2 linked regions of the Homo sapiens genome follow. The protein of the gene in region 1 purifies or fractionates together with the protein of each later gene. This does not show direct contact. Each region holds a gene or a part of one and is shown in the gene's direction. Other genes may lie near its edges.

Region 1 (5,346 bases):
TAGGAAAACCAGAGACCTTTGTTCACTTGTTTATCTGCTGACCTTCCCTCCACTATTGTCCTATGACCCTGCCAAATTCCCCTCTCCAAGAAACACCCAAGAATGATCAATAAAAAATAAATTAAAAAAAAAAAAAAAGAAGTTTAAGAAGACCTAAATAAAGACATCTGTGTCTGTAGGTTAGAAGACTTAATATTGCTAAAATGACAATATTCCCCAAATTGATCTACAGATTTAGCATAATCCCTATCAGAATTCAGCTGACTTCTTTTGCAGAAATTGACAAGCTGGTTCTAAAATTCATATGGAAAGTCAAGGGATTCAGAATAGCCAAAGCAATCTTGAAAAAGAAAAACAAAGTGGGAGGGCTCACACTTCCTGATTTCAAAACTTACTACGAAGCTACAGTAATCAAACTGGTTTGGTACAGGCACAAACACAGACATATAGGTCAGTGAAATAGAATAGAGAGTCTGAAAGAAACCCATATATCTATGGTCAATTTAGTTTTGACAAGGGTGCCAAGTCCATTCAATGGGAAAACAATTGTCTTTTTGACAAATTATGCCAGAACAACTCGACATCCACATGTAAAAGAATGAATTTGAACCTAGCCTCACTCCATACACAAAACTTAAAATGGATCAAAGATCTAAATGTAAGAGCTAAAGCTATAAAACTCTTAGAATTTTAAATCGGCCAGGTATGGTGGTTCACACCTGTAATCCCAGCACTTTGGGAAGCTGAGGTGGGAGAATCACTTGAGCCCAGGAGTTTGAGACCAGCCCAATCAACATAGTGAGACCCCATATCTTAATAAATACATACTTTAAAAAATAAAAGAACAAAAAAATGAAAAAAATAAATAGCCAGGCATGGTGGTGTGTGCCTGTAGTCCCAGCTACTCAGGAGGCTGAGGTGGGAGGATCACCTGAGTCCAGGAAGGTCAAGCCTGCAGTGAGCCAAAGTTGCACCACTGCACTCCAGCCTGGACAACAGAGTGACACCCTATCTCCAAAAAAGAAAAAGAGAGAAAGAAAATCATTTTCTCTTAGTGTTCAAATTTGTCACCATCAATATTTCCTTGTATTTATTTAAATTTCCCTGTGGCTATTTCACCTTTTTCATTCCACTTCATTCTCTTGATTACCCAGGTTGGTAAACTGTGTATCTTTAAAACTGGTCTTGTCAGAATACTGCCTTTTAAATTTATTTTCCACTACCCATCTTTGTTTTCTATGCATTAATTTAAGTTTTGATCTTTATTTGACTGCTTTCCAGATTCATCTGGTGTATCTTTTTCTAGTTTCCTAAGGCTTTGTGAGGCACCGAGTCAAGGGAAGAGAGGAAGTGCTAAATCTCACCAGACGCTAGAGAGTGATATGGGGATGCACCGTCATGGTCCTCCCTGCTTTGCCATGCTGATGATAATGAGAAGGGACTGTGGATGGACTTCACATGAGGAGAGCCCTGCTATGGAATGGCACTCAAGTGCTCTATTTTTCCACCCTCAGCTCTGACACATCTCTGACAGGAGGCAAGCAGACACATGGTACTGAGGAGAGAGGCCATTTCTCTTACTGTCTCCTGTCTCTGAAGAGAATGAGGAAGTAAAAGCTGAAGAACAACAGGAATGAAGTCAGTGGCAAGACCAACTGGTGCCACTGACCAGACCTGAGATTGAAAGATTAACCCTCCCCACCCCCAACTCTAACCACATGTGCTCTCAATCTATCACAACACTTTCACATGGACCCCTTAGAGTTGAAAGCCCTAAAAAGGGCCAGGTTTCACATGGACCCCTTAGAGTTGAAAGCCCTTTAAAGGGCCAGGAACTCTTTCTTTAGGGAGCTCGGTTCTTGAGATGCAAGTCGGCCAATGCTCCCGGGGGAATAAAGCCTCTTCCTTCTTTAACCCAGTGTCTGAGGGGTTTTGTCTGCAGCTCATCCTGCTACAGTACAAGTTCCCCTGGAGTTTGTTTCTGACAGAGACACATCTCTGTGGCAGATGTCCCAATCCCTATGTCATAATGCAATTGTGAATTCAGAGCTCTCTCCTCACTCACGTTACTCATGCCAGACCTTGGGAAGCAGAGAAATCAGGGCTAATGAACCATCTAAGGACAGGCCATGAGGGTTCGATTTTGTGTAAGAGACATGGCCAGATCTATTAGGTGGACCAGGAATGGGTGGGTATCTCCCTGGGCTTTACAGGACTTGAGAAAAGAGAGGATGTTAAAGTAGTAATTGTCTTTGTATAGAGCCATAGAGAGAAACAGTCTTAACTCATTTATGTACTTCCCATTTAATTCTGATGACAGACCAAAGGCAATTTAATTTTGGTTATAATTGAGGATGTTGAAGAAAGCATTGAATGGAAGACATTGCAGAAGAAGAAACAGCAGAAAATCAAGGTGAGAAGAATTCCATGTACTTAAGAGAAATCCAGAACATTTATAACTACATCATAAGGTGTAGGACTTTGCCTCTTATCAATCCAGGGTCTAATTAGGAGTCAACTCAATGTTGGCTCATTTTTCCTCCATTCTCTTCTCAGTCTGGGCTGTCTGGATCTGGGCCTGACTGAGATATTGAGAGTGATTGGAAAGAATGAAAGCCTTGGGAGGCCGAGACAGGCAGATCATGAGGTCAGGAGATTGAGACCATCCTGGCTAACACGGTGAAACCCCATCTCTACTAAAAATACAAAAAATTAGCCGGGTGTGGTGGTGAGTGCCTGTAGTCCCAGCTATGCTACTCAGGAGGCTGAGGCAGGAGAATGGGTGAACCCGAGAAGCGGAGCTTGCAGTGAGCCAAGATCACGCCACTGCACTCCAGCCTGGGCAACAGAGCGAGACTCCTTCTCAAAAAAAAAAAAAAAAAAAAGAATGAAAGCCATCAAGAAATGCATAAGGCTGAGAGGTGAGAATGTGAGAACTTGGAATTAGAGAGTAGACTGTTCAAAATATGGAAAGACTTGGAGTAGAATATGTGGTCAGGGTATTGAAAACCTACCATAGTATCAAAATATGGTCATAGCAGACAGAAATCAGCCAGTGGTGGTTTGGGGCTGGAATTAGCAGATAATTACCAGGCAGAAGGTTATGAGGCCTTTCCAAACCCAGTGAGCACCAAAGAGGTGAGTGTGACTAACAAGGTCCCACACATCCCTATTGCACCCTTCTAGTTACTAATGGTTTTTCCCTTGATCCATGCACTGCAGAAATAGTCTGCAGAAGAACTCTGTGACTCTAAGATTGAAGTGATGTGCCCACAGTGGCAGAGGAAGGTCACCACCAGGTCTGATGGCTCCTAGTCAGTGTCCTGCTAACTTCCCTGAATTCTGAGGAAGGGCTGTGTTTTGAGAGAGAAAATCCAGGCTCCTTCCAGGAAGATCCTAGAAGTTGGTGGCAGGAAGTTTTCTGACTGATCGCTCTTGTCTCTGCCTAGGAAAAACTTAGAATAAGAACAAAAGCAGCTGTAAAGATCCAGGCCTGGTGGCGGGGCACCCTGGTGCGCAGGACACTGCTGCATGCAGCCCTCAGGGCCTGGATAATTCAGTGCTGGTGGCGGATGACGCTGTCGAGGGTGCTGGAGAAGAAACGGCAGGCAGCTCTGATCGCCTACGCAACCAGAGAGAGGGCAGTGATCAAGCTCCAGTCTTTGGTCCGTATGTGGCGTGTCCGCTGGCGATACTGCCAGGTGCTCAATGCCATCTACATCATCCAGGGCCACTGGCAATGCCACAACTGCCAGACCTGCGCTCTCCTCCAGGGCCACTGTGTGGTCACAGCCACTCACCTGCAGTTCCACATTGAGATCATCAACTCCTAAGGGCTGGCAAGAAGGGCACTGTGTCTACTGTCCCTATTAAAGGTCTAACCTGGTCTGGTGTGTCTCATGGGCTCCCCCAGCTAATGGGATTCTTGAGACTTGGACCTTGCTGCCTCCTCTTCTCCCTGAGAAAGAATTTCAGTGAGGTTTGCCCCCTGTGTCCAAGGACCCTGTTTTGGACTGACAATGGCCATAGGAAGCCCCAGTCTGCTCTGATATATGACAGAGCCAGAAATCCCAGTTCCCATCCCCAGCCTTATTTTCTTCTCACCGGGGGATCTGGGAGGCAGTTGGGCTCCATCTTCCTGAAGATTCTGGGCACCTCTGCACATATGGATGGACTATTGGGCCCTGCTCTGTCAACCTAGAATCAAGGTCGGCTGGGGTTTGGGATGCCTCAGTTTCCTCTTTGGCAAGCACCTAGATGGAAAGGCAATATTTGGCTGATTCTCCTGGGAGCAATGTAGTGCAGCCCCAGGTGAAGGATAAGAGGCTGGCCTTACTGGTAGGTGGGGCTGGGGCTAGGCATGCTAATGATTAGGTGGTGACCCTAAGGACTAGTGGAAAACAGAAGTTTACAGAAGTTCATCTTTTCTCTACAATTTCCTCACTAGAACTCGTCTCCCCAAGGGCCAGGTGACAAACAGGGCTCCCTCTGATATTACCCCCACCCCTACTCTTATCTCAATTATTGGTGATTTTATCATTGGTCAAGATGACCCTACAATCTCCTCCATTCTAACCTCAAACCTTTTCTGCTCTTCTCCTCAGCTATTCACTCCCACAGTCATACCAAAACAATGCTATTCTATGGAACTTCTGTGATGATGGAAATCTCTCTCTATGCTGTCCAACATAGTAGCCACTAGCCACATATAGTTGTGGTGCACCTGAAATGTGCCTAGTGCAACTGAGGAGTTGAATTTTTTATTTTATTTAAATTTAAATAATCATTGGACAATGATGCTCTAGACCTCATCATCACCAATAATTGTACTATTGCTCAAATTGCTTTTTCTAATTTTCCATTCTTTGATTACTTTCTTCTTTCAGTTCACCTTTTCAATAACCCCAATATTTCTTCAGATATGATAAGGTCTTCCAGTTTATTGATGCTATCATTTTTTTACAGCCACCACCCCTGACATGCTCTTGCATGTTTCTTTACCTAGTGCAGATTCCATGGTTAATTATCATCTCTCCCCTGCACTACCTCACTTCCTTGGCCCACTTTCTTTCTGCAAACATGTATGAGATGAAGGCAACCGTCTCCCTGTTCCATGCCTACAGAATAAGGGAACATGGCTGGGACAAAACCAACAACCATGAGGCATGGTCTTCATTTATATTCATGACCACATATATCAACTGGACTAATTTCCCAATGAATTTATTTAGTATGTTTGCATTTATATTTTCCGAGTTGAATAATTTACACCACCTCCTCTCCAAATGTTTGTTATTTCGGTTGGAATAAATGGTGTCAGAAATGAAACCTGAAAAAGAACACTAT
Region 2 (4,453 bases), on another chromosome or scaffold:
GCCGAGCTGAACTCAGCATTATAAATTAGTTGGTTAAACTGTCTTTGTGTTTTTGCATTGCAGATGTTAATCAGCTTCATGTTGTTTTCTAGTTGTTAGAGTTGGAAGCTTGGCAGTTGGCCTCCCTTCTTCCCATGGAGGACGGGGGCTTAACAGCCTTTGAAGAGGACCAGAGATGCCTTTCCCAGAGCCTCCCCTTGCCAGTGTCAGCAGAGGGCCCAGCTGCACAGACCACTGCTGAGCCCAGCAGGTCGTTTTCCTCAGCCCACAGACACCTGAGCAGAAGGAATGGGCTTTCCAGACTCTGCCAGAGCAGGACAGCGCTCTCTGGTAATGACCTTCGACCACTGCAGGCCTTAGCGCGTGGAAATACAAATGTGGAGTTGCTCTGTGTTCTCATGGAAACCCTCTCACCAGGGATTGAAGTCACTCTATTCCTGCAGAGAAAAGTTCGTGGTTTAAGTGCTCGGCTCATGCTGGCAGATGACTCCGGCAGGACCCTTCCTGCTGCTTTTACTCTGCTGTGATTCCCAGGCAGCTGGCGCTTCTTTTCAGGCAGCAGGTGGAACTCACCTTCACATTTCAGGGTCAAGTTACAACAAAATGTTATTTCTTACTTTAGAGTATGTGAGAACGCTGTTCTAGGTTAGGCTATTTTACTTAGGGAATTGCAGCTTTGCTCGTGCAGTTTACTGAGCTAAACGCGGTTTAGCTGGTGGACCAAGAATCATGGGGCAGAAGTCTGTTGGTGCCTCCTATGTCCAGATTCCGTTGGTGCCTCCTTTGTCCAGGCACCCCAAAGGACTGGGCCATGGTGAGGAAGGAAGCGTCACTTGCCTTTCAGGGGCTGTCTGATGGAGGCACTTGGGGAGACAGCAGGCTGTGTGCTTGAAGTTGGGGTAGACCTGGAAAATGGGGAAGTGGGGCATAGAGCTGCGGGAAATGGTGGCTGGGAGTCTGGTCTCCAGGTCAAGGAGCACTTCGACACTGGAGTAGGAGGGTGTTGGAGCTGAGCTTGTGCACTGGAGTGTCTGAGGGTGTAGAGCGGAGGGCCCTGTGGAGAGTGCCCAGGATACTGCAGGGAGGGGTGGGCTGGGAGGCACACAGCGCCCTTGGGAGTGGGCTTCACCCAGGCGCTGATCAGGAATGTTCTCAGTGAGTGTTGACAGGTGTGTTCCTTTTTTGGAGCATCATTCTGGTGGCTGCATGAGGAGCAGGGGTGGGAGCCGGAGGTACAGGGCCTTGAGACATGAGAAGGAGCTGCGCTTGGTGACTGCTGTCTGGGGAAGAGCAGGGGCGAGAGTGGCTGGATGGCCACGTGGTTTCCAGCCTCAGAGAATGGTCGGGGTCAGGCCACTCACTGAGAAAGTCAGGGGTCCTGGCTGGAGGACATGGAGGGGAGGGGATGGGAGAGAAATGGAAGGGTCAGGTCTTGAGTGCTTGGTTTTGAGCACTGGAAGAATGTATCTGGTGTCTCCAGAGATGGGGAAGCAGGCGAGTGGGCCGTGGGAGGTCCAGGCTGGAGGTGCGAGTGTGAGAGTCTTCAGTGCATTTCTAATTAGATGTATTTAAAGCTACCGAGGAATGGGTGAGATGGAGCCAGGGTCACTGAGAGGTGGGAGGTGGGGGAGCCCAGGTGCCCGAGGAGGGTGGTGTGGGAGGAGGGTGAGGCCTGAGGAATGACGGGGCTGAGGGTTTTGGGAGCCATTGGAGGCGTTGCTGAGAGAACGCTGCACAAGGAGCTCTTGAATCGTAGGAACGCTTCCAAGGAGGAGGTGACGGGGCAGCCACCGGAGTGGCCATGGGGTCTTGGAATGACTGACAGAGGACAGAAGGTGGGAAGGAAGGAACCTTTGAGTGTAATTAAGCTTTTTTGTTTTTTGGGACAAGGTCTGACTGTTGCTCAGGCTGGAGTGCAGTGGCGCAGTCATAGCTCGCTGCAGTCTCAAACTCCTGGGCTCAGGCAATCCTCCTGCCTTAGCCTCCTGAGTAGATGGGGCTGCAAGGGCACGCCACTATGCCCAACTGATTTTTACAAATTTTATTTTTAGTAGGGACAGGGTCTCGCTGTGTTGTCCAGGCTGGTCTTGAACTCCTGAACTCAAGCAACCTTCCTGCCTCAGCCTTCCAAAGAACTGGGATTATAGGCACGCCTGGCTTTGAGTGTAATTTAGACACAGAAGTGTTGATCTTATGCTGTTTGTGCTTCCGAGTGGACCTGGTGGTTGCCTAAGTGGATTCTGGGGACCATGTTCAGACACGCAGTGAGAGTGTGTGTTAGCTGTGCAGACTGACTTAATCCTTAGATCTTTTTGCAGGAGTTGAGGGCAAGGGCTGTGTGCTTTGCCTGTTTCAGAAGGTGGACTCTGGCAGCTGTGTGAAGTCTAAAGCTTCGCTTCGCTTCTCTTTTCAGAAGACAGATGGAGCTCCTATTGTCTATCATCACTGGCTGCCCAGAATATTTGTACAAGTAAACTGCACTGCCCTGCTGCCCCTGAGCACACGGACCCGTCCGAACCGCGGGGCAGTGTGTCCTGCTGCTCCCTGCTGCGGGGACTGTCCTCAGGGTGGTCCTCACCTCTGCTTCCGGCCCCTGTGTGCAACCCTAACAAGGCCATCTTCACGGTGGATGCCAAGACCACAGAGGTATTTGCTTCTCTTTTAGATCCAGCTGTGTAGATGTGGATTTGTGGTTTGTGCCTTAAACCTGGGATTTGTGTGTTTTAATGCAATTAGAAAAACATTTGGGCACTTCGGGAGGTGGGAAGTTTGCTTGAGCCCAGGAGTTCAAGACCAGCCTGGGCAACATAGCAAGATCCCATCTCTACAAAGAAATTAGCCAGGTGCGGTGGCACACACCTGTAGTCCCAGCTACCAGGGAGGCTGAGGCAGGAGGATCACTTGAACCCAGGAGTTCAAGGTTGCAGTGAGCTCTGATTGCGCCGCTGCAGTGAGCTCTGATTGCGCCACTGCACTCCAGCCTGGGCAACAGAGTGAGACCCTGTCTGTCAGGAAAAGGCTGGCTTCTGCATGGTCGTCCTGGGCTGTTCTGGGCAGCTGGTGGAGCTGCTGGGGATGTCTGCATCCTTGCTCCTCTTTGTGATTCCTCAGATCCTGGTTGCTAACGACAAAGCTTGCGGGCTCCTGGGGTACAGCAGCCAGGACCTGATTGGCCAGAAGCTCACGCAGTTCTTTCTGAGGTCAGATTCTGATGTGGTGGAGGCCCTCAGCGAGGAGCACATGGAGGCCGACGGCCACGCTGCGGTGGTGTTTGGCACGGTGGTGAGTGGATGCGGGTGCAGCGTTCAGTCTGGCCTCAAGACCAGCAGTGTGTGGCAGGAACAGCTCAGTGTTCCCTACCAGGAGCTCTGCTGGGGGTTGGGTGGCACCAGGACATCTCAGCTTCTTCAGCTGAAAATGTCATCCCAGGCGCCGTTTCCCCGCTTCAGCTGCAGTGGGGGTGGGGGCCCTTTAAGAACGAATCATCGCAGGAATGGACACTGTGGCTGTGGCTGGACTCCTGGGAGGTGTCGTGGGTGGCCCTTGCTTTGTCTGAGGGCTGTAGCTTCACTAATGTTTTGCAGTCCTGCCGGGCAGCACATCAGATGCTCAAGAGTAATATGGTTTTATTGTCTATTGATTTTTACATTCTGTTTGGTGTTTGTGGGAGCGGGCGGGGGTGTTGGCCTGGAAGCATTTCCCTAGACAGTGTTGATTCTCTCACCTGTGCCATGTGTCCAACCTGGATGTTGACAGGTGAGCTGAGTTGGATGTGGAGGACTGAGCCCAAGGCATGGAAAAAGCCCAAGGCATGGCTGATTGTAGGGTTTCCCCTCGTCAGCCGGTCGGGGACTGGGGGAGTAGCGTTGGAGGGCAGTGGAGGTTGGGGTATGATCTGAGGCTCTAGTAGTCATCCAGATCCTCCAGGTTGCCTGTTTCCCACCTAGTGTGTGGCTTTCACACAGAAGACCCCATTGCTTGAACTGAACTGATGTCACAGGCTTAGGACCAATTGTATCAGAAAATCACTGGTTCAAGAAACTGACTACTAAGAAGAAAAAAACTAAGATATTCACCATGTGTTGGTGTCTGTTTCTTTAAGAAATAACAGATACTGCTTTTTTCACCCTGCAATATTACCATGAACTGAGAATGAAATCTACTCTCTTGATAAAACTTGCACTTGGAGATTTTAATGTTCAGTATGGGAAATCTTGTTTGTGCTTTGGTAAATTTCTGAAATGAAAATCAGGTAAGCAGAAGTTGAAAACGTTGCAGTGCCTGGAGTTTGGGCCTCCTGGAGGCAGGTGCCCCACCCATACTGGTCTTTTGGGTTCATGGCATGCAGGTGTGAACCTGTCTGTTTCCACAGGTGGACATCATCAGCCGTAGTGGGGAGAAGATTCCAGTGTCTGTGTGGATGAAGAGGATGCGGCAGGAGCGCCGCCTATGC

What was found. Proteins that work in one complex are often made in the same cells at the same time.
Region 2: the proteins of IQCF2 (region 1) and PASK purify together in Homo sapiens (affinity purification with mass spectrometry; one large-scale study listed by BioGRID and IntAct). This does not show direct contact.

Annotation. Positions count from the first base shown.
Region 1 is NC_000003.12:51,859,538-51,864,883, forward strand, and holds IQCF2 (IQ domain-containing protein F2), read left to right. Parts: upstream 1-2,077; 5' UTR 2,078-2,129; coding exon 2,130-2,147; intron 2,148-2,320; coding exon 2,321-2,413; intron 2,414-3,449; coding exon 3,450-3,833; 3' UTR 3,834-3,887; downstream 3,888-5,346.
Region 2 is NC_000002.12:241,138,714-241,143,166, reverse strand, and holds part of PASK (PAS domain-containing serine/threonine-protein kinase), read left to right. Parts: intron 1-92; coding exon of another isoform or gene 93-134; coding exon 135-330; intron 331-2,413; coding exon 2,414-2,646; intron 2,647-3,111; coding exon 3,112-3,282; intron 3,283-4,372; coding exon 4,373-4,453. UniProt on the Homo sapiens protein: Serine/threonine-protein kinase involved in energy homeostasis and protein translation. Phosphorylates EEF1A1, GYS1, PDX1 and RPS6.